Regions from separate parts of the Homo sapiens genome. Here region 2 is linked to region 1. The links come from fine-mapping of genetic effects on gene expression. A gene starts in region 1. The other region holds a variant in brackets. All regions are shown on one strand. Distances are between the middles of the regions. Region 1 holds the start of SLC22A3 (solute carrier family 22 member 3). Region 2 overlaps SLC22A3 (solute carrier family 22 member 3).

What was found. PIP is the estimated chance that this variant, and not a neighbour inherited with it, causes the effect. A credible set is the group of variants that fine-mapping cannot tell apart.
Region 2: its variant is the best candidate, but not a certain one, in a credible set for the expression of SLC22A3 in unexposed skin (GTEx, PIP 0.80).

Annotation. Positions count from the first base shown.
Region 1 is chr6:160,339,700-160,354,920 of GRCh38, reverse strand. It overlaps SLC22A3 (solute carrier family 22 member 3), which reads right to left and starts at 6,543. Exons shown (of 11, transcript NM_021977.4): 1 at 6,073-6,543. The coding sequence starts at 6,501.
Region 2 is chr6:160,430,094-160,445,314 of GRCh38, reverse strand. It overlaps SLC22A3 (solute carrier family 22 member 3), which reads right to left. Exons shown (of 11, transcript NM_021977.4): 6 at 8,438-8,535; 7 at 8,104-8,318; 8 at 2,446-2,554; 9 at 1,573-1,685. Among named protein-coding and RNA genes, the nearest start is that of SLC22A3, 89 kb to the right of the region's middle. The variant C/T (reference allele first, on the strand shown) is at 8,159.

The DNA.
Region 1 (15,221 bases):
CTGACCAGGACTCAGACACGTGGCCTCTCTAGCTTCAAGGGAAGCTGGGAAATATGACCTACCTGTGGGGTCCAGTGGGAAAGTATCGGTATTCTCAGCCTTTAGAGCAAATTAGTGTCCGAGATATTTTATTTTATTTTTTAGAGACAGGGTCTTCCTCTGTCACCCAGGCTGGAATACAGCAGCACAGTTCGACCTCCTGGGTTCAACCTTCTGAGTAGATAGGACTACAGGCATGCATCACCACACTCGGCCAATTTTTTAAAAATTTTAAAATATTTTTGTATAGTTGGAGTCTCAAAATGCTGCCTAGGCTGGCCTCAGACTCCTGGGATTACAGGCATGAACCACCACAACTGGCCAAGGCTTTGACTCTTTATATTTAAGGCAAATTTATCAGTGATTTATTATGCTAGACCAGGGATCAGCAAACTTACAGCTCCAGGGTCAAATCTGGCCCATAGCCTGTTCCTTCCCTCCCTCCTGACTCCCACCTGGCTTAAGGGTCTTTATGTGTTCACAGGAACCAACTGTTCTGAGCACCACCTATGACCAGGCACTTTGCAAGCATATGTCAAGCCAATTGCTAAGGCAGGCATTCTTGTACCCATTCTAGTGCTGAGGAAACTGAGGCTCAGGCAGATGCTCAGTTGACTTGCCCTTCAAGTTAATAGAGGAGCTGGGATTTAGGACAAGATTTATCTGACACCAAAGGACATGTGTATTCTTTCCACTCTACTAAGATGTCAATGCCAAAAATAACCCGTGGGTCCAAAAGTACAGATGTCTCTGCAACATCTGTTGGAGTCCCCTACCTTTGCCCAAAGCTCCTTTCTAAGGTTTACCAAGACTCCCAGAAAGTGTGGTTCAGCTGTGGGCTTCCCCCGCTCCCCAGTTAATTCCAGGATTTTATTATCAGTTGCCCATCCCTGGAGAGCTCAAAGCTCTCTGAAAATAAACAGCAGCATTTCATCTGATAAGATTTGGGATACCTGTCTGAGGATAAAGGGATAATGTTCCCCTCTGAGAGTCTCCAGGGTGTGCTTGGTGGAACTGGCAATTCTCTCCCAGTCATTATATTCTCATCATGCTCCTCATTAAGAAACACCCAGCTTGTCTCTCTGTGTGGTCCATGGACCATCTGAAAAGGGCCCTAGATGTTTGTGAAAAAGGAAAATTCCTGAACTCCAACCCTCGTCTTTTGATTCCAAACCCTGTGTGTGCGACCCGAGAATGCACACCAACCACTGCTCCTGAGGGCACAAAATAAATGGGTGCAGAGAAAATAATGAAGATGAGAGGGTGTGAGAATAGAACATCTTTTCCCTCATATTTTCCTCTTGGACTCCTCCTTGTACTCAGAGGTTGAGGTTAAGGTCAATGTACTTTCTGCCCTGGTTCACTCCTCTGTCCCATCAGAGGGTGGTACCCTTTATCACACCCACAGCCACTGTCATCACATTATCGCTGCAATTTTCCCTGCCAAGCTTCACGCTGTTTTGAGAAAGACTCGTGTATCTTTGTATCCCCAGCCTAGCCCAGTGCCTAGAATAAAATAAATGCTAAATAAACTTCAGCTGAACTGATGTTGATAATCCAAAATATCAGCTGCCAGAGAGGAGCAGGAGATACTCTTGCACATTCTCATAATGAAGGTCCTTATTGTAAATATTTTCCTTGTTCTGAGGTCCAGAAAGCATTGCTGCATGAATCTGTTTGGCCATTCTGCTGCCTAGACCAAGAATCAGACACCTAGTGGGGTGGCTGTTCACTCATTAGAGTCCTGCTTTCACTCCATTAAAAATAAACTATTAGGCTGGGTGCAGTGGCTCATGCCTGTAATCCCAGCACTTTCGGAGGCCTAGGCAAGCAGATCGCCTGAGGTCAGCCTGGCCAATATGCTGAAACCCTGTCTCTACTAAAAATACAAAAATTAGCCAGGCGCGGTGGCGGGTGCCTGTAATCCCAGCTACTCAGGAGGCTGAGGGAGGAGAATTGCTTGAACCCGGGGGGCAAGGTTGCAGTGAGCTGAGATTGCACCACTGCTCTCCAGCCTGGGTGACATAGCGAGACTTTGTCAAAAAACAAAACAAAACAAAAACCTATTACACTATTAAAACACTTTTGTCATCAACAGAAAGGACTAGTTACTCTGAGGGACAAGGGCCAACATAAAATTTTTGTTGAATTGTTGATGTTTCAGAAAGTATGGGAAAGACACACTCTTCTAATAAAAACAAACAATGGATTCAGTTTTTATAGATTCAGCCAGGTAATCTGGAAGGGAAAAAGTGATTCCAAGTCAAAATGATCTGGAAAGGAAAAACAAATGTGATTCAGTCTATTTTTAAAGGTGTTCTGAAGCCCTGCTCTGAGTGATAGCCTAGGGAAAAGCTCTTTTTTTTTCATCCATACCATATTAGCAAGCATTGAAAAATCCTAGCATCAATCTTGAAGACACTCCCTGGGCAGTGAATTGAAATATTTGGGACAGGGGGTCAGACTCGCTTCTCTGCGTTACATTGTATTTTATTCTGCCCAATATCTGACAACAAGATAAGGCCGAGATTCGGACATTAGAAAAGTCTCCACTGAGGAAGTTCAATGTGGGTGATAAATCCACTGCCTTGCCTTGAGCAGGAGACACAAATTAGGAGCTGGCCATAAAGGGATGTGCCCTTGGCATTGATTTCTGACTTAGTGTCTTAGAACTATCTCAAGTTGTAAGATGCGAAGGTGGTGTATGAGATTTAAATGACCATTTTGCAACTTTCACATCAGGAGGCTAGAGAACCATTCCCACCAAATGAAAGCACAGCCTCCCCATCTGCCAGTCTGGCTGACTGTGGATCCTGACACCGTAAAATGAAACAAAGTAGCCCATTGGAGGACCATGATAGTAAGAAAATAAATACAAAGTTTCAACGAGGTTTCTGCAGGTTATAAAGTGTGAGAGATCTGAGTACTATGTTTCATGGACTTGCTTGAAGGATTTTGAGCACTTTATGGAGGAAAGTGGACTGACTTACAATCAAGGCCCCCGGATTTGAATCCAGTTTGGCTACATAAATGGCGTGGGACCCTGGAAGGTCCTCAGGTCTCTCTTCTATGAAGCCAGGACAATGATACCCCTCCCACCATGGTGCAAGGATGAAGTATTATAGCTATATGGAGGCATTCTGGAGTCTGGTCATCCCGCCCACTTTGTAAACTCTCCCAATTCACCCCTTTGCATGATTTGTATCTTAGGCTTCAAGTTTATAAAAATACACTGGATACATAATGTTAGCTGAAGATGGAACTACAGTTCCTTTCATCAGACAGAATTTGAAAGAAAAAAATTAGTTGAACCAAAGACAGCAAAATATTAGCTATGCAGAATTCAGAGAGTTGCTGACTTGTTTTGGATAGTTGAACTTTATGAATAGATGGGGGTTTTCCTCTTAAGAAACCAAACATGAAAAACAAACCAAAAGAAGCACAAAACTATTTGGAATTTAAAAAGAGGCTGGGCGCGGTGGCTCACACCTGTAATCCCAGCACTTTGGGAAGCCAAGGCGGGCGGATCACGAGGTCAGGAGATCGAGACCATCCTGGCTAACACAGTGAAACCCCGCCTCTACTAAAAATACAAAAAATTAGCCGGGCATGGTGGCAGTCGCCTGTAGTCCCAGCTATTCGGGAGGCTGAGGCAGGAGAATGGCAGGAACCTGGGAGGCGGAGCTTGCAGTAAGCCGAGATCACGCCACTGCACACCAGCCTGGGCGACAGAGAGAGACTCCGTCTCAAAGAAAACAAAACAAAACAAAACAAAAAAGAATCTCTCCAATATATTTCAAAAACTTTTTTGGGGCTTTACGGGGTACATTCCTAATATCATTCTACTTTCTTAAAGACTTTTTAATCATTGTTCTGGGCACACCAAACAGTAACCAGGTGGTGACCCTGATGGCATTTGGAGCATTGTAACGGGCTGAATCCAATGGCTAATTTTACAGAGGAAAAATACAAGCCCAGAGAAGGCGAGTAACTCACCCAAGCCACACAGCCAGCTGGAGACCGAGCCAGCCCCTGACCCTCCATCATTCCACACTGCATTTTAGTAGCCACTGATCTTCATAAAATCACCTTATTGTAACCCCGGGATGCTAGTAACCCTGCAACTCCAGAATGCTTCCAAAGTATCCGTCAGAGCATTAAATTACAGATTTTTATGTCTGTCTTCTTTGATGTCCATGGATCATACTCACTCATGCAAACCTCGCTTGAGCACTTGTTGAGGCTCGTTTTATTCTTCATCTTTAAATGTCTCCAAAAATCAGCTGTCTGCCCTCCATGTGGGTCCTCTGGTTCACTTGGGAAGTAAGCATTAGGCAGCGCTGCTGAGTGGAGTGGAAGAAGCCACCTAACAGATGCGACTCACAGAGATAATGCCCTCTCTCATCCAAGTCCATGCCCTGTCCTTTCAACTGTGAAATCTCTAACCAGACCATCACCAATTATAAAGCAGTCCCCAGCCTTACCATGGATTAAGTAGAAATTAAAGATCCCAACACACATATGTATTGCCTGGCTGTCTTGCCAGGGGGGTTTATCCTGAGATCACTCAGCATAGAGCCACTCAGTGTGCGAACACACTTGCATGTGGCATTATAGAAACACCCTGAACACACATACACATTGCCTGGCTGTCCTGCCAGGGGGTTTTATCCCTGGAGCACTTAGCATAGAGCCATCCACTGTGCGAACACAGCAGCACACGGCGTTACAGAAAGATCCCAAACACATACACACATCGCCTGGCTGTCCTGCCATGGGTTTTATCCCTGGAGCACATAGCATAGAGCCATCCACTGTGCGAACACACCAGCACATGGCGTATAAAACATGTACAATTGCAACCACCGACACTCCCAACTGCAGCGAGATAAGCTCACCAGACCAACAGCAACAGCGGCAGAAAGGGCGCTCCTACCTCCTCATCCAGTGTTTTCCCCACTCTTCAAGTAGGTGATTTTTTAAAGTTTATCACAAAAAAAAGACAAACCTTTTTTCCTAATGTACCTGATCACATTCAATCTTTTTTTAAAATTAACTTAAGCTGTGATTGTAGACAAAGCTCAGTAAAACTGCTCATCTCTGCAACCCATGCTCAATTGAGGCCGTTTCTGAGTTCCGATTATTACAAAGTGACTCTGCTCTATATCTGGACCTCACAGAGAGGCAATCTTCCATTTCAGCAAGGATGCAGAAACAGATTACTGAGGGCAAGGGTGAAGGAAGCTCCCCTAACTTCCAAATGCACTGACTGCCCAAAATGTGGGGATCGCCCCCGCCCACCCGCCGGCAGCAGCCTCCGCCTGTAAATGGGTTGGGGATTTGCGTTGGAAGGCTGTGGCCCTCCCGCTATGTTCCTAAAATTTATTACCAGAAAAAAAAACTAAAATTTATCCAATACTTCAGTTTTCCCAACTTATCCCAGATGTTGCTCTTTGCCCCAAAGCAATTTTACCAAAACCATTCCCCGGGAAAGCCTCGACCTTTGTCCCCTTGCATTTTGAGTAACCATTTGGGCAACTGGAAAAAAGCTGCTGCTGCCTTCAAACGTTGGTTCGCCCTTTCCTTTGACCCTGGAGACCATAAGCGAATCCGGAACTGCCAACGTCGCTCACCCCAGAGACTGAAGTTCCCTATCGCGCACCTAACCATAATTTCCAATGACGGCGCCCGCACACCTCAAAGATAAGGAACGCGGTGCTGGGTCTTTGACTCCTGAGCAGGCGTGCGCCAGGCGTTTACAACTCGGCTTCGAAGAAAGTTTTTGTTCACACCCGAAACCAAAGTATCTGTGCATTAACTCACGGGCTCAGGCAGATAACGAAAGGCTTTTCCCAGCATTTACGACGCGGCACTTCCAAGGGTGCGCTGAATCCTGTCTGTCCCCAGAGGTAGCCGACCGGTCCCCGTCTCCACCGACCTCCCCTGGCGGCCAGCGTCTCACACGCGGCTTGTCCGCCTGGGAGCCAGCATCGTCCTCTCCCGCCGGCTTCCAAAGGGCCGGGGCGCCCTTACCTCGCTGACGATGGTGGAGTGGGCCTGGGCGTAGCGCCAGCCGCCGCGGCACGGCACAAGGGGAGCCGAGCGGTTGGGGAAGGCGGCGAGTGGGTCCGCGCAGCTGAGAGCGCTAGTGGCGGAGGCGCTGTCGTTGGCCGCCTCCAGGAGGTAGCGCTGGCAGCGGCCGCGGCGCTCGGGGGGCTCTGGGCCGCGGGAGGCGGGCGCCGTGCGGTTCCACTCCTCCTCCGGGCTCCAGCCGCAGCGCTCGGCCAGCGCCGCGGCACTTGGCCCGCGGCACCAGTAGTGGTCGGGCTGCGTGCCCAGGAAGACCACGCCGACGAAGAGGAAGGCGAAGGTGACGCCCGTCAGGCACAGCAGCAAAAACACGCGCCTCTGGAAGCGCCCGAACTCGCCCACCCGCTGCAGCGCCTCGTCGAAGGAGGGCATGGTGCGCCCGCCGCCCGCCGCCCGCAGCCCGCGCCTCGGAGTGACCCGCGGACCCAGCCGGCGGCCTCTCTTTACTCCGCCGCCTCCCCCGCGCCACCCGCCTCACTCGCCCTGGCGCTGTGCCGGCCGCAGCCGCTCCTCCTGCCCCCCGCGGCCCCCGCCTCTCTTCCCCGGGCGCCCGCAGCAGCCCCGGGCCACAGGTCGCGGGAGGGACGGCCGCGAGCCGGACGCACCCGGCCGGGGTGGGCGCGCGGTGGGGCTCGGGCGGTGCGGCCTGACTACGCGCCAGGGACCCGGCCGGGACCGCGAGTGACGGGCGCAGCCTCCGGCCTGGCGCGGAGCTCCTTTTGGTCCCTGCCAGCAGCCTGCTCTGCAGTCAGCCCCAGGTCGGGCTCCAGAAGAAGAAAGTTCCAGGGTCACCCGACCACTCCCGGAACTTCTGGGACCCGATCTCTCAGCGGCCCGGAGTGCAGCCCGGGGACTAAGGACGCGCGCGCGCGCCCCGGGTCCGGTGCCTGTGCCCGGGAGAGCCCCCTCCAGCCCTTGGCCCTTGCGCGTGCGGAGGCCTCCTGCGCCCATGTGGGGCAGGGCAGGGCAGGGCAGGGCAGGGCAGGGCAGGGCAGGGCAGGGCTGCCCGTTCCCAGCACAGCGCTGGCCATCGCCCTCGACCCATCGAGAGCTACAACTTGGGATTTGATCACCCAACTTTCCCCAGAGGGCAGCCGGGCAACCCACACAGGCGAAGGGGCTTGCTCAGCGTCCAGGAGGTTTGGGGTGAGAAGGGATCGCCTCAAGGCCAGGCCTGATGCAGACCTCCTTCGCCAGGGCCTTCCCACCCACCTTCGGTCTGAACGCCAGGGAAGGGTGTTGGTGGTTGGTTTGAATCCTGGTTTTTCCGCTTACTTATTGCGCCTGCCAATTCGGCAGAGCGCGATCAGAACTTCCCGCCCAGGCTGCCCAGGCTGCTGGGTCCATGCTGGGACGCCTTCCCCGGGCTGGGTCGCGGTCCCCCCACGCCCCCACGTTATCGGCCCACGTTCTGCCTTTAGCTCACTTTTCTCCAAGGCCTTGGGAGGACTTGCGGTTCCTCCTCCGGAACAAGGAGTTTGAAGCCAGGCTGCTTGGATTCAAACTGGCCTCATGTCCTCACCAGCAGTTTCAACTGCCCGCTGGACCCCAGACTCAGTCTGTCCCCCTCCAACCCAGCTCCCCTTTCCTGCCCTGCCTTTCGGTGCAACCATGTCCTGGGCCCAGACTCAGAACCTCAGTATGGCGGGGACACCACTCACTCCTCAGGCCTGTACTCTTAGGTCATCTCGGCTTGGAACCCCTTTTGCCAATGTTGGAGCTCAGAAAACAATACGCCAAAATGAAGGCCTCAGAAGCAGTCTCTGTGTCATCTTCTGCCCTCCTGTCTCTCGGTCCCATTCTCCCCCAGGCTAGCCATCGAAACCAGAACGCTTTTCCCCAAAGCCAGTCATAAAACAAAAATATCACTGTGATTTTCCCTCACTTGTCTGTGTAAAAACTGGCCATAAAGAAATCAACTGTTCTACCTTGTTGATTGCAGTCCTAAGACCTCCCATTCCACAGAAGAACCTGCCCCTTACCCAGAAGGAAAAAAAGGCTGCTCAGAGAGGCCAAGAAGAATCTAGAGCCACCGGCCTCGCTGGGTTTCCTCACTCAGTATCAGCATCAGATCACACCCTTTTGGTCCAATCCTATTTCGACAGGGCTCTCCATGTTTTGTTGAACCTAAGCATAAAACTAGGCAATTTCCCCTGTATCTTTGGGCCTTCCTTCTGAAGGCCCCCATGTACACCTTAAATAAATAAGTACACCTTTTCTTCTAGCCATCTGCCTCTTGTCAGTGAATTTTCAGGGAACTGGGACCAGTCAACAACCCACCCCAACCTCTGCATACACTAGCACATTCCCCCCTTTCCTGCTTTGTCTCCAAAGCACTTATCATCACCATATATTGTCATAGATATGTTTTTATTCATTTATCATATATTTATATTTATACTTATTCATTTTATTTATTTATCTTATCTGTGTCTCTCCATTACAACTCAAGTTTCATGAGGGCAGACAGTTTTGTATTTTCTTCTATCGATACCTTCTGGAACAGTGCTTGGTGCATTGTAGGTGCTCAGTAAATATTTGTGAAATAAACAGATGCTTCTTGACTCCCCCACCACACACACTCACACACACTCATACACACTCACATGTCCCCTCATCTCAGCTATGTGATTGCCTTGGGCTCCCCTCAGGGTTCTGTCCCTGCAGCACCTGTCCTCTGGTCCAGCCTGCACTTGGGATCATCTTCCCACAGTGCAGCTTGGGGGTGCCACCTTCAGCAGTTTGCCTTGTTTTCTAAAATCCTCCTTTCTCACTCTCCCTTTCTAGCTCCTAACCTGTATTTCTCCTCAAATTGTTCCCTGTGGACAGCCAAACAGAACTACTTGCCAATCTTCACATTCTTCTTGAAATTTTTAAAATCTATGCCTGTACACACAAAGTTTCCTTTTCTTAGAATTTCATCCCCCTATTCCTCCCTGCCCATCACCCAGCAAGGCCTGGTTCAAATGTCAACAGCCCCTCTTTAAAGTCTTCCGCAACCACCACCACGGCCTTCCTCCCTCAGCAATGCAGTCCCCATCAGTGCTCCTAACATATCTAAGAAAATTTTCATGGAAGTTCACTATATTTTTTTTGTATTGTGGTTGTCAGGGTATTTTAATTTTAATTACTTTTTTTTTTTAAAGGAAGTCATCTCAGCCTATGGACAGATAGATCCAGTATAGTTGCTAGCTACATGGTGGACCTGGGAGCCAGACCCACTGGATTCAAATCCCCCTCTCCTCCTTATAGCTGAGTGATATTGGGCAAGTTATTTAGCCTCTTCTGTGAAACTGAGTAATAATAGAACCCTCTCATTTTTAATGCAAATCACTTAGAACAGGCCTTGAAACATAAGTGCTAGGTAAGAGTCAGCTAATAATAAAAAGAGCGATAAAACCACCACCCACCCCCAGAATTAGCAAACATCATCTTATGTTTGCTTTGGATATATTGTTATAAAGTCCTGACATATCACAGACACGACTGGAGTCTCCTTCCTGTTGCTTCAGATCCTATCCTCTGTCTCCTCCCTTCCTCCTTGGGGCAGCCATTAGGTCTTTTCTTTGGGACATGGGGCTCAGAGCTACCGGGCAGGGAATCCCAGGGTCCCAGCTCTCAGAGTGTGGTTGGAAGTGGGTTGGGGAGTGAGGGTGATTGGCTTGAGGTGAGCGCAACCTCTTGCCCCTTGAGGAGGTCAGGAGTAGGGCCTGAGTGGGCACCCGCAAGGCCCCAGGCCTCTCTTGCCCAGATGTAATTCGCAGGAAGCTATGATTCTTATCTGTTTGAAGCCTTTAACACACAGGTATTGCAACGAAACAGTAGATAGTATTTAGAGTGCTTTGAAAATTTTACATAAATGGTACCATACTCTATGTAGCTTTCTGTCCCTCCTTTTTTTTACTCTACAATATATTTTTGAGACCTGTTAGCCTTGATATATAGAGATCGGGCTCGTTTACTCTAACTTCTTGTGTCTTTCTATTGAAAGGTCATCCTATGACTTTTCCATTCCCCTACTGGGGAACATTTAGCTCATTTAAAATTTTTCACAATTACAAATTGTGCTGCAGTGAACATATTGTGCATATTTCTTTATGTATTTATGCAAGAATTGGTCAAAGATAAATGCCTAGAAGTAGACTAGATGAACCATAAGTGTGCATGTTTGAACTTTACTAGACATTGCTGTCAATGGCTGTCCTCAACTGACATCCCACCAGCAACACATGAGTTGCTTCACGTCCATACCAACACTTGGTCTTGTTAGACTCAACCACGCTAGCAGATACTATGGATGAAAAATGTGGCCCCATTGTTCTGATCTAGTCAGGGATGTGACTAACACATTTACATATTTATTCATCATTCAGGTTTTCTCTTCTGTGAGTTGCTTCTTCCTATCATCTGCTTATGCTCTCTTTGTTATTTGTGGCGGTTTTTTTTCTTATTGGATTTTTGGGAAATTATTTGCATATTTGTGTATTCTGCTTCTCTGCCAGCTGTATATATACAATCTTCTCAGTCTGGGGATTGTCTTTTAACTTTTAGCATCTTGGATGCTACACAAATTTTAAATTGTCGTATAGTAAAACTGATCATCCTCCTTCATAGCTTCTGCTTTTTTAGACTTGTTCTAAAAATCCTGCTCTAGTGTGAGATCTTAAGTACTTTCTTCTATATATTCTTATTAAATCTTATTTTTCAAATTGAGGTTTAATATCTCTGGAGTTATTTTTGTGCAGAGAATGGTGGGATCTAACTTTACTTATTTCTTTCGAATGGACAACCACTTGCCCAGATGCCACTTAACTGAACTTCTTCTTGACTTACACTATTGCCTGTCTCCTAAATTAGGTTCCTGCCCCTGCTTCCATCTGTTTCTGAGCCTTCATTCTGTCCTACTGAATCTGGTAATATCTAATAAGACAAATCCCACCTTTCCTCTCCCCTCACCTTGTCCTCTCCAAAATTTCCTTGACTATTCTTGGACTCTTTTTCTTCCACACAACCTTTACATTTTATCAAATTCCACAAAAATCAGTTGAAGTCTTAGTTTTAAATCACGTATGCACTTTTTTTCTTCCATGGCATTGTAGGCATTTTGAGAGAAAAACCGAATCACTCTCAATTTTGTATCTTTGAAACATCCGTTATCTGTTCTATATCTGCACCATCCAAAATGTTGTGCCCACTTAAACGTAGATTTATTAAGATTAAATAAAATGAATAATTATGTTCCAGGCATATTCCAAGTGCTCAGCAGCCACAAGTGCAGGAACTAACACATTGGCTTGCACAGAGAGAGAGAGAGAACATTTCAGTCGCCACCAGACATTCTGGTGCACAGAGCTAATCAACACATAGTAATCAATAAATGTTGGTTAAATAGCAATAATAAGAATCAATTGCCCCACAACCGCAGGCTTTTGTAAAAACATGCTGACATTAACTTTTCTTAAAAAGGTAATCATTTTAATTTATTCATCTGAAGTTTTATAGTTGGTAGTTTTATTGCATTTAGAAATGAATATACCAATACCAGAATATTCACCACATATTGAGTTGCTGAACTAAGTCATCATGACACTTATGCAGTTTGGGAAGAGTAAAGAACTAAGAAGATTAGTTTGGGAATGCTATAATAAATGTTGGTTTCAAGACTTTTTTCCTAAGATTCATGGGAGGGAAATTTGGCAGGTGAACTGGTACATGTGCTCCAGCCTACAGAAAAAAAAAATGAAAATTCATATTTACTTTTTTAACAAGTGGATAAGAATGTCTGAAAGTCTCTCATTCTTTCCTTATCTGGCGTGGAGTTGCTGTTTTTTACCTTAGCATGTGAATGTAATAAAATCTACAGAGCACTCCCATTATTCTATGGCCTATAAATAGACCCTAAAGTTGAGTTAAATTGACCAGCAATCATAATTATCTGTCACTTGCCAGTGGATTATGATTTGGACTTTGTTAGAGGAAAGTCTTCATTTTTTGGGGAAACTATTACAGACCTTTTGAAATAGATGCTTTTTCTATATTTAAAGCCTATAGGATCTTAGACTTAAAGTCACCTTTGGAGAAAGGGGTAGCCAAAAAGAAAATGCTAAATAGGACTAAATATTCCAGAGTTGAATTACAACAAGAGAATTCTAGAGTTCGTATCTTTTCATCAAGCAGTTTTGGGCAGGGATGGGAACTAGGCTTTTGCTCATGCCCCACCACTCTCATTTGGCAGGAGCTATCTAGAGCACAGTGTTGAGGCTGACTTTGAGGCTGAGTGGAAAACAGGCCCCAGCTGGTTAGGAATGTCCAACACAGGAAGAGAAAAGGAGAGTGGCAGAATGAGTGTGAAAAGGTGGTCAACCTTCCACTGATCAATGCAGCTGGAGAAGCACCACATTGCCACAATACTCCTCATCGGCCTCCACAACTCTTAGGGCAGGCATCCTGTCCCTTAAGTCACATCATAAAGTGCCTCATCTAATGAATCACATTTTTTTCCCACAGAGCTACTGAAATTCTCTTAGAATATTCCATTCTAACCATATACAGATGTGGTTTCTAACAATTTGGAAACCTGGATTTTTTGGCCTTCTATGTTTGCTTGTGTTGTAGAAATCTTAAAATGGAATATGAAGCTTCATCTCTACGTGCAGAGGATCACTATCCAAATAATGTTGCACATGTGGTTGTATAAGAGTCGAATTAAACTGTTTTTACCCTGATGTGACCAATCTTCACCTTCCAGGCTCAGAGCCTGTCCAATGCTAAGCCCATAGTGCTGGGTTCAGAAGTCATTGGATTTGGCACAATAAATGCTAAGACTGAAATTCCTAACACTGTTAAAGTAGGCAGGTTCACTTATAACACTGTGAAGGTTTGATGTAAACTTTTGTGAAAAGTATTAATGGGATACTTAAAAAAAATTTTAAATTACAGTCGCCATTCTACTTGTAGATTACTTTTGCAATTAGTTTTTGTTTGTATTTTTTAATTATAAGTGATTTTTTCTGAGTCAAATCATAATTTCTCATTGTGGTATAAACCAATAAATGATTTCTTCCTCAAAATACAATAAAATTAAGATCATTAGACCATTTCCTGGTTGTAAAATGCAGCGGATTCAAGTTATTTTCCTTTATCATGAAACCAAAATGTATAAATTATGGCCATCCAGGTTATTTTTCGCGCAGTTTGTACATATTTGTACAAAACCTGTACAAACTAAGGCAGGTTTTCTGAGGCAGTTTGTAGAACACTGGAAGATGAAATATTCAAAAATTTTTCTTTTCTTTTTTCTTTTTTTTTTTTGAGATAGGGTCTCACTCTGTCACCCAAGCTGGAGTGCAGTGGCTCAATCACAGCTCACTGCAGTCCCAAACTCCTCGGCTCAAGCCATCCTTCCACCTCAACCTCCCAAGTAGCTGGGACCACTGGCAAATACCACCACACTCAGCTACATTTTGTATCTTTTGTAGAGATGGAGTTTTGTTAGGTTGTCCAGACTGATCTTGAACTCCTGGGCTCAAGCGATCCTCCCACCTCAGACTCCCAAAATGCCGGTATTACAGGTAGGAACCGCTGTGCCCAGCCTGAAATATTTGGTTTTGTAAGATTTTAAAGCTATGTCTTAAACATGAAAAGGTGAAATCCATCTGAAAAATTTAAAAGGAAAACTTTTTATAATGAGTCCCAAAGAAACAGAAGGGGAACAAGAATATCATTAGGAAATTTGATGTAAATGACAGGAGTATATACAAATATTTCTGTTTTAACTGTCTTTTATTCTTGTTTTATGTAACTAATTGTCTAGATAATTTTACAATTTATATTGAGTAGCAGCAATGGGAAGACTCCATCTGAGATGCTACTGTAAACATTCAGAGAAAAGCCCAGGAGAATGGCAGAAGAGAAGAGTTCATGGATAAGAAACTAGTATGAGCAGCAAGTCACCAAAGTGTTGTTTTGTTTTTATATTAAGATATCTTAGGTTCTCCCTAGAATCCACAGTCCAAATTCTGATCTCAGATTTACTGTGAGATAAAGGGTACGTGGGACCTGTTTGCCTTTCCTAAACATGAATGAGAGAGCTCTGGTTTGTGCATTTCTGGCTTTCTGCAATTCAGAGCCCGTTGAGACCGAGAGTGCCTCTCCAACCTCTTGTGAGAAAGCCCACTCACATTCCTCAGTTCAGCCCGGTCAGTGCCCAGGTTCCAGCCACACCCAAGCATGGCAACATGTTCCCCTCAGGGGTTTCCTCAGAAACCAGGGGCTCCCCACTTAAGCTAGCAGCCACTGTCAAAGGCAGGCTGGCTCCCCGGTTCCCTCTGCATCGTTCAACTCGCACTCTTCCCAGGCTATACTTCATTCCCACGGGTTAGGCCCTCCTTGTCCTCCACGGAATGGGCTCTGTGCCAGGGGCCCTGCTGTGTGCTGGACATATTGTGGTCCTGTAATCCTCAGAACCACACTGATGGGGGCTGCCAGCCTTTCACAAGTGTGGACACTGAGGCTTGGAAATGTTGGCATCAGTCGTACAAATGTCATGTGGGCTGAAGTGGCTCCCTCGTGGAGCCCCACAGCCAGCCCTTCCTGCTGCTCTGGGTCACCCACAGGTCTCCTGGTACCCTGGACACTCGCGACACCTTTACATTTTCTTTCCAACTTTCCCCATGACTTTTATGTTCTGACAAGGCATTTTTTCTTTTCAATTAAGTTCTAGTATTTTTTTAAAAAAATAAAACCATTTTATGCGTTCTACAATGATCTCTACATAATATCTTAGACATGAAGGTATCTTAGGATTTTTATTTAATTGAAAGAAGTTTTAGAAGCCATGTAATCTAATTTCCTTGCTTTACAATAAAGTAATTAAGGACCAAAGAGATTAAATGACTCAACTAAAGCAACTTTACTCAGTTTATAGCAACAGTGGAAATAGGGCCCAGGCCCATGCACTGTGATAAACACACTGCCTCAAATTCATTTTTTAAATCCTTCATTTCATAAATCTCCTTTTGGTTACAGTATATTCTACACATTTAAAAAATTGCTTTATTTATATTGAAATTAATTTGTATGAATGTAAAACC
Region 2 (15,221 bases), 90 kb before region 1:
AGGTGCTTGAGGATGCGGCATCCTCTTGCTTTGAACTTTCCACTGCCTGGAGCACAGCCAGCCCCTCTTGGCCTAGACATTGCTTCCTTCCTCCCTGGCCTGCTCCCTTCCACTCAGGGGTCAAGGGTCCCTGTGACCTATTCTCATAGGAGCCTCTGCTTTCAGGGTCTCAGCAGTTATCACATTCTGTTGTCGCTGAGTTTTTAGAAATTCGGCTGTCTCCCCTCGCAGTCTCAGGCCCCGCCTGCCTGCCACTGGGCTGTGGGCTGCAGTCCTGAAGGTCATGTGTCTTGTCTCCTGGACTACTCTGTCTTTGCTGGACAGTAGCACTTTCTGCTTTTTCATGCTGACCACAGAATTAACACTCAGCTTGATGACCAAATCCCATACAATAATTTGAGGTGATCCTGTATTGAGGTCACTGGTGTCAAGTGGTAGAAGCCGACTCTTTGTCCCTCACACTGTCAAAGGACTTTTGCATGAAGCAGAAGGTCTGTCCTCATGGGCTCAGTATTTTCATTCAAATTTCAACTGCTGAACCATAAATGAAAAACATTCTCTACCAGAAGTAAGGAAGTGGAGATAGAGAAACGGTTGCGTGAGAAAGGGGCCAACCCGTATCCTTTACTGCAGAAGAGGGCACAGGGGAAGTGTGTGAAACCCAGGCAGGACCGTTGGAGCAGCCCTGGAGAAGTGGGACACTGAATTCCCCAAGGTCCCTCCTAGACTATGATTCTGTTCCTTCACAAGTCCTATGGAAGCTGGAGGTAGGAGGAGAGGTGCACTCGAGGGACCTGGAGGAGGTGATGGAATGTGTGCCCGGGATCCTGTGTCACCTGCTCCCTCCACATGGATTTTTAGCATCGGGCCAATGAAGATATGATATCCATAGAGAGAGAACACCAGAAATACAATTAGACATTAGGCTTATTTTTGTTATTTTTTATTATTTATTTATTTTAGAGATAGGTTCTTACCCTGTTGCCCAGGCTGGAGTGCAATGGCGTGACCATAGCTCACTGCAGCCTTGATCCTCCTGCCTCAGCATCCTGAGTAGCTTGGACTACAGGCACCCATGGATCACCACGCCTAGCTAATTTTTAAATTTTTGTCAAGGCAGTCTTGCTATGTTGCCCAAGCTGGTCTTGAACTCCTAGGCCCAAGCAGTCCTCCCATTTTGGTCTTACAGGTGTGAGCCACTGCACCTGGCCCTCATTTTTAAACATATTGAATATTTAATTTAGTCCCCTGAAAATTATTGGTTATGTTCTCCAATACCATAAGAGTTTCACAGCATTTAACTCAGAACCCAAAGAATGCTAATTGAACATTATTTATCAGCACCCTTTAATATAAAGTAAATTAAAACCATTCATTATAACTGAATTGGCTCTCAAAACTGAAATAGTTATTATAATAAGATGAAATTAATATCATAATTATCAATGAAATAGTTATTATAATAAGATAAATGACTATCATTATCATTATTGAACCTAACAATTATTATAGGTCTCTTTTAGTACAAAGAATGTAGATGAAGGCTCTTAAGAATAGCAAATGAGTTCTTACCAAAGATGATCAGAGGTAGTTCTAGCCACACGGCTGCTAGCCGAAAGAGCAGAAATGGGGCTATGATTCCCCCAAAATCACACAGACCTGAACAGAGCGAAACTCCGAAATTTCTGTTGAATGAAAAGTAATTTTAAGTGAAAACTATTTCAACAAGTGACTTCAAGATAATCAACATATTCAGACATATTAAAAAACCAAAGGAAGTGTGAAGATACTTTGCATTTTCTAACTTTGAAAACGACTACTCTCAGAACTCTAAGCAAAACATTTCCATTCTGCACGTTTCACAGTAAGGCTAGTGAGGAAGTCTCCAGCGTGGGTGGAGGGTGTTATCCATCAGCAACCCACTGCCCTGCCTGCTCTGGGTCACTTTGTGCTACTTTGGTTTCCTCATCTGAGGGAGAAGTGTGCCCAGGGAATGCTTCCTCAGCAGAGGAGGTTGATTTGCACTAATCCGTGCACACTGTTTCATTTCATCCTTCATAACCAGCTGCTCACCACTGCAATGCATGTAATGCAGTCAAAGAGAGGCCATAGTCTTGCAGCAGGTGATGCTGATGGATACAGATTTAACCCACAGTCTAAGCAAGGGCACCTAGAGGTCTTCTGGTTTCAAGTTAAGGGCCTTTCCTCAAAACCGTAACAGTGTGTGAAGATATTAATATGAGAAATACTTTTATCACAAAATGCAGCAGGCAGCAATGCAGAAAGCAGTGATAACTCAAAGCATATCTTCTTTACTAGCTGGATTCAGCCTAGGCTAATATATCACTGAGCTAAGGAAACGACTTCATAGTTTTTAACTAAATCAACTTAAAACGCTGGTCTACAGAGTTACTTAGGAGAAACTATAACGTTTGTTAGAATTACCGTAATGTTGTTGGGTACAATTCTGAATTTACCAAATAAACAATTTCAAAGGCCATGGTTATCCCTAGTCTTCCCAATGTAGCCACTGTGGTCCTCAACCATGCTATTCCTGCAAACACAGAAAGTTTGAAAGGGAGGAGTTAGGGGTCTGATTTCATTAACATTTTACAGAACAACAAAAAGTATTTGCTTAGTGGCCTCCAGTCTGAAGTCTTTGCCAATTTTAAGCACAAATGATAGAACTTTCTAATAATGTAACCAAATTTCAACAACAATGAAACTAGATGATAGCTAATATTTTAGAGCGCTAGATGCCTTTCTGAGCAGGTTGGATTATAGGAAGTACAATTCAAGAACCGTTTGTTGAGCATGAGCAGCCACTACATTGGAACATTGTTCCAGGCAATGACCTCCTAGAGAGCCAAAGCACACTGGCTTTTTGTCCAGGTGGTAGTTTCCAGTCATGCCTTTGAGCCACCACGTTCCCACAGCTGGTGCCCAGCTGTCCTTTCTGTGCATACCTTGCGGTGGTGACACAAGGAATAGCCGTTCCCAGCACACCTGGGGAGTTCCTCACGTGAGCTGACCTTGGTTTCTAGAGTGGAGCAAGCTTTGAGGACCAGGATCTTTGGAAGGGGACATCTATTCTGTGTGTTACCACTAAGGCAAATGTCACTCATTGTCTTCTTCATCCCCCATTGTACTACTTCCTTCAATAAACCATCCAGAAGGAGCCACATTCATCAATGCTAATTGGTTCGTCCATTTTAAAATGAACTGTTTTAGGACTGCTCTGGTTGTATGAAGAAATTTTCCTTTCCTCCCTACTAACTAGTGGGAAATGCCAAACATTCTATATTAAATATTTTCTTTCTTTTATGTTTTAAGGGCAGAGGAGTTAACCATTTTTACTCTAAAAAGTCACTGCTCTAGCTTTCCTAGAAGTTGTGCAATTGATGTCATCCTTTCCTAGGGGATTTGGTATTGAGGACATATGTCTGCATGAACAAGACCATATCTGCTCTCCAAAGCAAAACGAAGCATGTCCAGTGTTCATGTGCCTTTCATTTTCCCTTTATATCCAACACATATGTTCATTTAGCACTAAATAGTCCTCCTGTTTCCTAGGGGAATTATTGAACCTTCCTGAATATATAATTTTTTAGTAGAAATGAATGAGGAGGATGAAAGAAGAGAATCAAGCCCAGTAGACTTCTGTGTGTTCTCTCTAGAGAATAGCCAAGTCAAAAAAAAAAAAAAAAGCTAAAATTCATTAAATAAAACAATTGCCCAGGAGCACAGGTGTAAGGAAAAGATGGCTCAAGAATCCAAACCATTTCTGGGAGTCTGAAGTTTACATATTTTGACTGCAAACTGGCCAAGGACATCCTGGTGCACTTGATGTTTTTCCCACATGAGAACCCTTGTAGCTGTCACGTTAACGGTTATATCAGGCAGTGAGGAGGCCAGGGTTGTGCTGATGTGCTGGGCCACTGTCTGCTCTGGAGCAGAAGGTTTGTCAACATGTGTTATTTAGGCTTTGCTTCTTTATGAAGACCAAGAAAAGGGGGGAGTGGAGACTAGGTAATGCATTCCACTCCATCTTTCAATGAGCATGTGGTACTGGAAGGGGAAAGTGGGAGCAGAGACTCAGATTCCCTGGGTCCCAGCCCGATGGGACCATCTCCTGCCACTCCCGGGCTGCAGTGAAGGCTGCCTGCTACCTAGGAAACAGCTTCACTATCCAGGTTGGGTTCTTCCATTGTATGTTTCTTTTCACTAAATCAAGATTGCTCTAAAATTGAGTCCCACCGACAAATTCAAGGGCAATTTGGGTTTATAACCGAGGCAAGGTGTTTCATGGAAAAATCCAAACAAAAGCCAGAGACCAAATTAAAACACACACACACACTCCACCATGATAAACATATGTGGTTAACTCAGATAAATAGCCAGTCAATTCAGTAAAACATTCAGAAAATGCCAAGTTGCCCCATTTGTGGAGATGTGGTCTGTCCGGAACATTGACCTTAATCTGAAAGACTCCCAACTCTTTTCCAAGCAGTAGAGTCCAGTATCAAACTATACTGGAACAGAGATTTTGTTGAAATGTGTAACCAAAGAAAAGTTTCTAAGGCATTGCATGGTTCATTAACTAAAGAGTGAAAAGAAAACTGTAGGAAGTATGAATAAATATATACACACAAAGAAATTCTTGATTCCAGTAATAAGCTAAATTCATTTTGAGGTGGCCATAGACATCTTTTGGTAGCAATGACAAAAACCACAGGGCAATTTAAAAATGAGTACTGAAACTAAAATTGTCTTCCATGGAATTACATGAGAACAAAGAAAATGTTTTCTTCTGAATGTGGATTTGGTCAAGCTACTAGAGATGATTGGGAATAATACCTCAATTCCTGAAGAAAGGATGCAGGACTTAAACAAAACTTTATATGTCCTCTGAATGGATCATCTACTCTGAGTTCTGAAATAAAGTTTAGTGAGAAATTCTAGTAGAAATGTCTAAATTAAGATACATGAACTCACTTTTCAATTAAAGAAAAATAAAAGTGGAAGACAAGTTTTCCAGTTCAAGAAGACGACTTATCCAAACTGCTAGGTTTGTGGTCATCCTAAATAAACTCAAATTAAAGATGGCAGACAGGTATGGATAAAGAAAGGTCTTTATTTTCCAGACATTAATGAGTGTTAAGAAATTTGGACTAGAAGCAGTGAGTCTGAGATGAGAATACAACCAGAACTACTATTTCTTCTTCCAGAATTCCATTCTTTAGACCATGAAAAGTTGGGTCGAGTGGAGGGAAAGCTGATTAAAGTGTTTGCTGTGAGACTATTTTAGAGCTGGTTTCTCCAAAAGCTCATCTGTATTCTCCCCAGGGGCTGGCGACCTACTACTGACGTCAGGAATGGCTGAGCAGAAAAGCCTTTCTCGTGCTAATTAACCAGTGGCTGGAATCAAGTCCAATGGGTCTTTAAATTGGAAGGACTCAAGGGAGGATCGTCTGTTAATATTTGGAACTCAGTTTAGGGATTTGAAATGTATTCTTGCCAGTCAGTCATGACTGACATATGACTATAAAAGCAGCCAAGTCTGCAGAAGGTAAAAATAAAATGTGTCTAGAATAAGAGCAATTCATTTTCAGTCTTGCTGAGAACAATTCTAAAGCTTCAATCAGGAAATTATATCTATAAAATAAAACTGGTTAGACAAGGGAGAACAGTCTGTTCTTGGTGTTATATTTTCCAATATATGAAAGAATTCTCTACAAAATAGTTATATGACTATCCGGCTAGTTACTTCTGTCTTGATTTGGACACACAGCCTTGAATGCTTTCTGGGGTCATTCTGAATGCAACAAACATTAAAGTCATCCCAATCAATCTAGGACCAGAGAAAATCTTATAGAGTAAAGTATATATATATATCATGAAATGAGGGGACACACCGAAGCATGCATCTTTCTCGCTGCATTTCTAATTTCATATACAATGAATATTTCATTCATTCCTAGTCCACATACGATGAGAACAGAAGACTTCATCTCAGGGAGCTACAGTTGTATGTTATATCCAAAGTACCAAAGTAAAATAGAACAGTAACGTCTCCAATGTTTGCGATTTTTCACTCTTCTTAAATTATACAATTTTGAGGGCAGGAATTATGTCTATTTTGTTCACCTCTCCATTCCCCTCCTAGTTCAGTGGCTGGCAATTAGTCGATACTAAATAGATACGTATTAAGAGATAGCTATTGTACAGATCCTCCAACTCTTATAATATGTTAATTCCATGTAGTGGGTTGAACAGTGTCTCCCAAAATTCATGTCTACCTGGAACCTCAAGGCTACTACATTTGGAAATAAGGTCTTTGCAGATGTAATTAGTCAAGGTGACACTGACACAAGCAGAGAAGAGAATGTCCTGTGAATATGGAGGCAGAGATAGGAGTGACACCAAGGAGCTGCAAGGATTGCCAGAGAGAGGCATGAAGAGACCCTTCCCCAGAACCTCTGGACATAAGCACCCTTGGATGCCTTGATTCTAGACTCCCAGCCTCCACACCCCTGAGAGCATAAATGTCTGTTGTTTCAAGCCGGTGAGTTTGTGGTACTTATTACAGCAGCCCTGGGAAGCGAATGCACTCAAGGAAAACAAGAGAAATGTAAATAGGTGGTTGCTGTTCATCATCAAACATTCCAACATGTCAGGGGACTTGTACATTGTGTGTGTGTGTGTGTGTGTGTGTGTATGTGTGTGTGTGTGTGTTCCGAATATTGGCATTCCTGTAATTTTATTCAAATAGGGCCTACCTCGTGTTTTAAGAATTCATAAACCTTCATTTAATTAATAAACTCATCTGTAAATGTCTGACTGTTCTGACTCCCACTATATTGTCCATTTCTTGGCTGGTCCTCAGAGGATTCTCAAAGAAAGACAGCCTTTTTTGTGCAGACACAAAGGATGCCTGGAGAATCCAGCTTTCTCTGTAATCCCCACTTTGCCTTTCCTGGAAGAGGGGAATGATGAACTTGCTCTACTTCACACATCCCCTGGGATGTGAAGCCCTCCTCCTCCCAGTTCCTGGTGTGTTCTAGGGTAAGGATCTTCTGGGTGCTGCTCACCACACATCAGGAGTCACGGCACCCTCTGCTTCCTTCTGGCCTGCACCCCATCTACCAGGCATGGAGCTCTGAAAAATTTAACTCTGCAACATCTCTGAAATGAAATGACCCTCTCTCATCTAGGTCTGACTGCCCCAATTGTAACTCCTGCTCTCAGCATCTCCCCCTGCTCATAGCCATCTCTAAACTGCTGCAGTTATGCCAAACTCACTCCTCCTCCTCCGCAAGCTCACAGGACCACCTGCAGGGCTGGTCATGCTGGTGACAGATCATCTCTCAGGCTCCTTGTCTGGATTCCAGTCACAGCAATGAACCCTCAGTTCCTGCATGCACAAAGGTGTTTCATACTTCTGGAAACTCTTCTCTAGTTTGGAAACGTCCGTCCTCTCTCTCCCTGATATCTGGCACATTTGAGTCTTCACGCATGTTTAGTTCCCACTGCTGGGAAGCTTTTCTTGAATCCCCTTCTGGATTGATCACTCCTCCCCAATCTATTTTTTTATATTTCTAAATCTTGTAAATAGTTTAATTAGTTTCTAAATCTCACAAATAATTCATGACAATAAGAATCGTGACAATATTAAAGTATCTGTATCCCTTAATAGATTGTGAACCATTCGAAGTCAAGACTGCGTTCTTCTATGTGTAACCTCAGCGTTTAGCATGGTGCCAGCAGCATGGCAGAGGTTCAGGAAATAAGTTAAACATCAGAGATATCACAAAAGTAAGTCACATAAAGATGAGTAACAGAAACCACATCGCTATCAGCTAGATTGGGCACAATATCTATTTCATTCATAAATGATCCTAGCAATTGAGAAAAGAGAATCATCTACAGAACCAATCTCTTACTTCGAAGTTTTTATGCTGATTAAGCAGAAAATGGAGTGACATCACGAAAGACTGTGATTCCATTGCACATTTCCTAAGAACAAGTGGCTCCCTATACTTGATTGTGGATTTAGGTGTTTTCAAGTCCTTTGGCTGCCAAACAGATGTGGGGTAAGATTACCTTCTGGTAAGAACGCAGTGACAAGGCATGCCACCCCTGCCACTATATTGCTTGC[C/T]GCAAAGGGGAGGCGTCGTCCAAGGCGCTCAATGGTTAGTAAGATCAAGAGAGCTCCTGGCAGTTCCACCACGCCCGAGATGAAAAAGTCTATATAGAGGTTGCCCCCTATAATTCCCAGGCGCATGACAAGTCCTTGATACACCACTGCGCTTGTGAACCTGTAGCAACATTGAAAGACACCAGAGAACAAGTAAGAGATAACTTCAAGCTGATTTGAAGGAAGGGATGTATTGTAAATTTAACGCAAGCTTTTAAATCCATCACAAGTCAAACTTACCAAGCAAACATAAGAATAAGTGTGCATTTCCTCATTTGGGGAGTTCTCACCAGATCTAAAAAGGATGGATTACTAACTTCCTCATCTGTAACAGTGATCTATATAAGAAAAGCAGATTTCAGTAGCAATAGACAGAAAAAAAAAAAACCTGCATAGTATAGACTTGTCATTAACCAGAATCAAATGATCTTACTGAAGTGACTAGGGGCTTTCATAATATCTTAAAACCTGACAATTAAAACACTTCTGCTCTTGCATTTAGAACACATCAAATTCACAAAGATAGGATTGCTGCACTGAGAATCTGTTCTTAGGATAATTTCAGTACTTTATGTTAAACTGCTCTGTATGTTCTAAATACATATGCACATTTATTACATTGGGGGAAATGAGAGTCAGGGTGGGTGAAGCAAGTGGGATCCAACCAATTAAGGGTTTCTTTATAAACTAAATCCTCAAATCTGACTTTCACAAACAAAATAGAGTAATGTTAAGTTTAAGAGTAAGCACCAAAGGTATTATTTTGCTTTTGCCCATTTATTGTAATCTAACATCTTTTTGATCCAGAAAAATTCAGCTCATCTCTAGCTGGCCATCCAAGAAACTGGTCTTTTCAATTCAATTCAACAAATACTGCTATTGGCCAACTACATACAAAACACTGAAAAAAGCGAAGCTGGAGAGGACACCCCCCAATCCCCACATCCTGCCTCCAGTCTAACATGCGGAAGCATCAGAGCATGATACCCTGCAGTGACCGCAGCTCCAGTTTCCTGTGCTTGTCAGTCTCTTACCTCTGCATGGAGGGCTCTTTGACCTCCTCAGTCCTGATTTTACCTCCCCTGGGAAGCCTTTCCTAGCCTCAGATAGAACTGATGGCTCCCAAATTCTGCCTCTACTCCCCGGACCTCTATCCTAGCACCTGTACAACAGCACTCCCCTGTGGGTCTGGAGCTCTTGGAAGGCGGGAGTGCATTGTCACACCAAGCAAAGTGCCTGGTGTTCAACAACTGTTTGTGTAATGACTGAGTGCTGAAACAAGAAGTCAAGTGCCCTGGTCATATCTGTTCCTCAGTGTCGTCCTGGGTTTCTCTCCTCCTATTAAACAAAAATGCTGGCTACTAAGGACAAGACCGATGCTATCTATTTGTACAACTCCAGATTTGGCCCAGATTGAATGAAAATCTAGGCACATTTTCCCCAAAGCTTTGAGCTAAAGTCTCTCTACCAGTAATCACAGGAATTTGACTTAGAGCATACACACACTGATAGTACCTTGTCAATCACAGATTCTAAACAGTAAATTCAATAGATCAACCAAAGCTTGATATCTTATGCCTATCTTTGCTCCAAGGAAAGTCACACACACACAAAAGTAGACTGCAAAATGAATGCCTTTGGTCACTTTCTTTTCCAAAGTCTTCACAATCCTGTATTTCTTCTATACCAAGACACATTGGTTTTCTACATTTTAACATCTCTTAATTGGAAGGTGTCCTACAACTGAGCTGGTAAGAAAGAAATGTGTCCCAGTTTAAACAACATGGTTTCCTTTACTTAGTGGTACATAAAATGACTATGTGTCTTAAAATCAATAGTGTCTAGAGTCAACAAAACAATAGTTTCCATGACAATCGCCGTGGAAGACTGCTGATGGATTCCACCATCCATGCTTCCCTTCCCTCTTTTGAGAATACGTAGAATTTTAGTTGGGCATATGGCAGCCTAGTGACAGTCATTTTTTCTATCCTCTTTTTCAACTGTGAGTGGCACTGTGATTAAGACCTCAGCAATGAGGTGGTTGTAGGGGTCATGTGTATAAGTTCTAGGTCTCTGCATTTAAAAAGGTAATAACTTGCTGGAAGAAGATGCTGGTGAGCTTCAACCATACCACCTGTGTAGGCGATGGTGGAGATGCAAGATAAATGGAACTCATGGAGTAGAGCTGCCTCACTAGAGCTTGGCTGCTCACCTCTGTGTGCGTGTGCTAGAGAGAAAGACACTTTTATCTTTTTCATCACTGTATTTTTGGGGCCTTGTTTCATTAGCAAGTTGACCTGGATCTTAACTAATATAATGTCTATTAAGATGACCCCTGAGCTAACCTTCTAAATTTGAAGACCCCAGTGAGGGATTTTTCTGTGTCTACCTTAACCTTTGCTGCTCAAAAAACAAGACAGGAATATCAAAAGTGAAAGATAGGAACTCCATAGATTACAAATATATATTATGGTATAGTTTGTTGCCAAAATGTTTTCTACAATTCATTTCTATGTGTTAATACATTAAAATGGCTAGTGTTTATGGAGTGTGTGATATTAGATTCTAGACTAAGCACTTTACGTGGATTATTTTAAGTCTCATCAAAGCTCTATAAAGTTAGTACTTCTGTTAATCTTATTCTATAAATAAGGAAAACAAGGCTTAGGACTTTCAGGAGTGAATAGTACACAGGTAAATCAGCCAGGAATTGAAACCAGGCAACTGATTGGTGGAGCCTGTGTTCCTGATCCCCACACAGCACTGCTGAATATATTTCATTCTAGAAACATTCTTGATAGTTGATGGCCACATCTAAATATTTTTAAAGAAAGACACTGTGCACTTGACCTAAAACTGAATCTTTAATTAAAACATTGTTTTATGAAAAAAATTTGACTAGATAATTTAGATTTTAAAGATCTTTAAATTCAGGATTAAAACCACCCATCCTGCAAGGACAATGTTCCTCCATGAAAGTATCACCACCAACTCGTTGCCATGAGTTTTTCCTTTTACTGAGGGCTTTTCCACAACTCAGACTTGGGGCTGCCGGGCAGTGTCAGTCTCAGACTCTTCTCTCTCCAGGGATTCCCTGACAGGATCCCTTGTCTACATATCAATACCACTGTCCATTCAGCACACACAGGTGGCAATACTTTTTTCTTTGCTTTTCAAAAGAAATATTCACAGCAATTTATTACTGGCTCTCTTTTATTTCCTCTTCAGACTTCTGCTGAGAGCTATGACTTCTATCCACTAGCTATGAGTGTGAACAAATTCACTCTCACTCAAGTTTCCAGTTCCAACATCCCAGAGTTGAAGGGAAATCCTACATCACATATTTCAAGATCTCTGGTCAGTTCAGGTAGATAGTTTGACTTTTTAAAAAAATTTAAAAAAATTTTTTTTGAGATAGGGTCTCTCTCTGTCACCTAGGCTAGAGTGTAGTGGTGTAATCATGACTCACTACAGCCTCAACCTCCCGACTCAAGCAATCCTCCCACCTCAGCCTCCTGAGTAGCTGGTACCACAGGTGCATGCCACAGCACCTGGCTTATTAGTAGCAGTAGTAGTAGTAGTAGTAGTAGTAGTAGTAGTAGAGACAGGGTCTTGCTGTGTTGCCCAGGCTGGTCTTGAACTCCTGGGCTTGAACAATCCTCCTGACTTCGCCTCCCAAAATGTTGGGATTACAGGCATTAGCCATCATGCCCAGCCTAATTTGACATTTAAACACATTTGTAGATTTTTCAGTTGTTCATGATTCTTCACTGTTTTTAAGTGATAAAATAAAGGAGCATCTCTTGCTTTCATGTTAGCTCTGTAGATAATTGCCTTTCTCTGGCAGATCTCCAGTCACTCAATGACCACAGAATTATGACATGTTAGATTTTGACAAGAAAATAAAGATCTTATGTATTAACCTAGAGGTTGGCGAACGTTTTCTGCAAAGGGCTATATATTAAATGTTTTTGGTTTTGTGAGCTCTAAGACCTCTGTTGGAACTACTTACCTTTACCATCGTAGTGTGAAAACAGTCATAGACGATACATAAATGGCTTCCAATAAAATTTATTTACAAAAACAGGTTGCCTGCATGTCTGGCCTGCAAGCTGTAGTTTGCTGACCCCTGAATGAGAGGCTTAGTGCTGGAGAAACTTGTACAGATACTACTATCATTCCTATTACAGAGAGAAAGAAGTTGAGGTGGAGGAAAGCTATGTACCTTACCCAAGGAGGACACACAGACAGTAAGAAGATGAACCAGGAGGTTGATAGCAAAGTCTGTATTTTTAACCATTATGCGGTAATGTGTCTGCAGTATGTAGAATATGATATTTATTGTTTAAAAGTATGCCGTATCATTTCATTAATTACTTTCTTCTTTTCAGCTACAAATAATCTCTGAAAATTAAAAATTAAGCCTAACATTGGGAGGCCAAGGCGGGCGGATCACGAGGTCAGGAGTTCGAGACCAGCCTGGCCAACATGGTGAAACCCCGTCTCTACTAAAAATACAAAAAATATCTGGGCTTGGTGGTGGGCATCTGTAATCCCAGCTACTCGGGAGGCTGAGGCAGGAGAATCGTTTGAACCTGGGAGGCGGAGTTGCAGTGAGCCGAGATCGTGCCATTGCACTCCAGCCTGGGTGTCGGGGAGACTCCGTCTCAAAAAAAAAAAAAAAATTAAGCCTACATTATTTTTGTAACAAAAAAAAAAGCTCACTTTTAAAGTCATGGACTTAAATTAGACACAGCGTACCCGATTGTTGACTTCCTTCTCTTTCCTAACAGAATTCCCACTACACTCTCCCGCACCATCAATTCATATGTTTGTGGGAGCTGAGTCTCCTTCTAGTTGTAGCGGGAGGCCTGATTAGTTTAGGGAAATCGTATCCTCCATGTCAGTGACTGGGCACGTGACCCAATTTGAACCAATGAGAAATGGGCATACAACCCAATTCGGGCCAATGAGAAATGGACTTCTGGGAAAGTCCTTCATTGCTTTTAAGTCAGAAGTTCCTGAAGAAATCTTTTTTCTTCCTTCAAGGAATGAATGAGGAAATTGTGGGCTCACATACAACTTAGCAGTCATCTTACACTGATGAGACAACAAGTCTTAAGATGAAGCTATCCTGTCAACAGAGTGGAGAGAGGAGAAGAAAACCATGGTTTAATAAGATTGTTGAGATCCTGGTCTGGCCAACCCTGAATGCTGCTGTTGCTAGAATTCCAGACACACGAGCCAGTGAATGTCCTTATTGTCCAAACCTATTTAAGTTGGTTTTCTGTTACTTGTTGCCAAAAGCAGAATTATCTGAAGAATCCAATCCAGAACAATGCTTTTCCTTTAATAACTGAATATTTTAGGCAATTTTTTTTTAGCAAATAGTTAAAATAATTGCTTCTATACTCCAATCCACTCCATAAAAATACCTGGTATAAGTCTTAATTTCAAACTTTTAGAAGTTAAAACAGAGTGGTAATATGATCTCTGCTTTTCCAGACCACAAGTTTACTGCCTCATATATATCATCTACCAAAAAAAAAATACGAGGTGTTGATAACGAATGAAGGGAGTCAGGACTGTGAAACCAGTCTTCCCTGTCCAGTGAATGAAAGGATTAAGAGTACTTCCAAGCAAGTACATATTTTGCTACATTTAAGGACAAATCCAGCTGGTCTTTGATTTACTAACATCTCCACAGTGACGCAGATATTCTGAAAGATGACCCACTTTCTAGGCATCCAAAGGCCTTGAGAGACTTAAAACCGTATCTTGGATGGAATTCATCCAGGAAAATCTTGGCAACTCCTGCGCCGTGGCGGCCGCCACTATTATTCTTTTACAATAACTTCTAGCTCTATATCTGTGCTGATTTTCTGTTGCCAAAGGGTTACTAAATTTTGCCTGGTCTGAGTCAGACACACAAAAAAACAAAATGCTATACCAGGTTTAAAATTGTTTTTAAAAAATTGCTTTATTACCTCACATACCATTTACATGCACTTTATGATATTTACATGTAATTTATGTACAATAAACTTCAGCAATTCTAAGTGCACACTTTGAAGACTTTTGACAAATATATAGTCTTATAACCACCACCACAACCGTGGTACGGACCCTTTCCATGATCCCCAAAAGTTTCCTTGTGTCTCAGTGAAGTCAGTCCCCTCCCCCCACTCTGGGCTCTGGAAACCCAGATCTGCTTTCTGTCATGACAGTTTTGCTTTTTCTAGAATTTCATAGAAACAGAATCAACAGTGTCTCACTTGGCGTCCCGTTTTGTCATACCTTTTATGCTGTCTAAATGGGGGATGCTGGTTTTGATTTGAAGCAAAGGGAGAAAAGGGTGATGTTCCGGGTAACACTATCTGTTCAGAGGCTTGTTGCCTAGTATCGACACTCTCTATTCATGGGAAAAGGTATCGCTCAAGGTTAAACTGCAGAGGTTAGTTTCCTTGTATTTATTTAATGAGCTGAATTGCTATTTGCCCTATTCATCTCTTTGATTATCTTTTAATTCTGCCAAGACTGTGTTTTCCATCAACAATTATGTACTCCATATTAAAAGAACACTTTATTCGTCTTTCTTTGATTAATTCAGCTCTCTTTGCAATTCTTCCTGGTGAAACATTTCTTCAAGTTGACGTCTTCATTTAAATTGCCAAAGAAGAGAAAGACATTATAAATAACCATCTGTTATAAATATGGTGTTCAGAGCTCCCCACGTGGAGGACTGGTCTCGGGTCAGAAAAAAGACAGTCAGGGTTAGGCCAGACATGTGGTATTCTACTCAGAACATTTTTTTACTAGCATGTTACTTAAACTGTTTGAGCCTTAGTTTTCTCATCAGTAGCAGGAGAATAATAATATTCAAATATATTATTTTAATATTATTATTAAATATTATTCATTTATCAAATCACACCTTATTAGTGTTTTGAAAATTCATTTAAATAACCCATCTGTCTATATAGATACATAGATATGTGTACATATACACAGATACATACAAGTG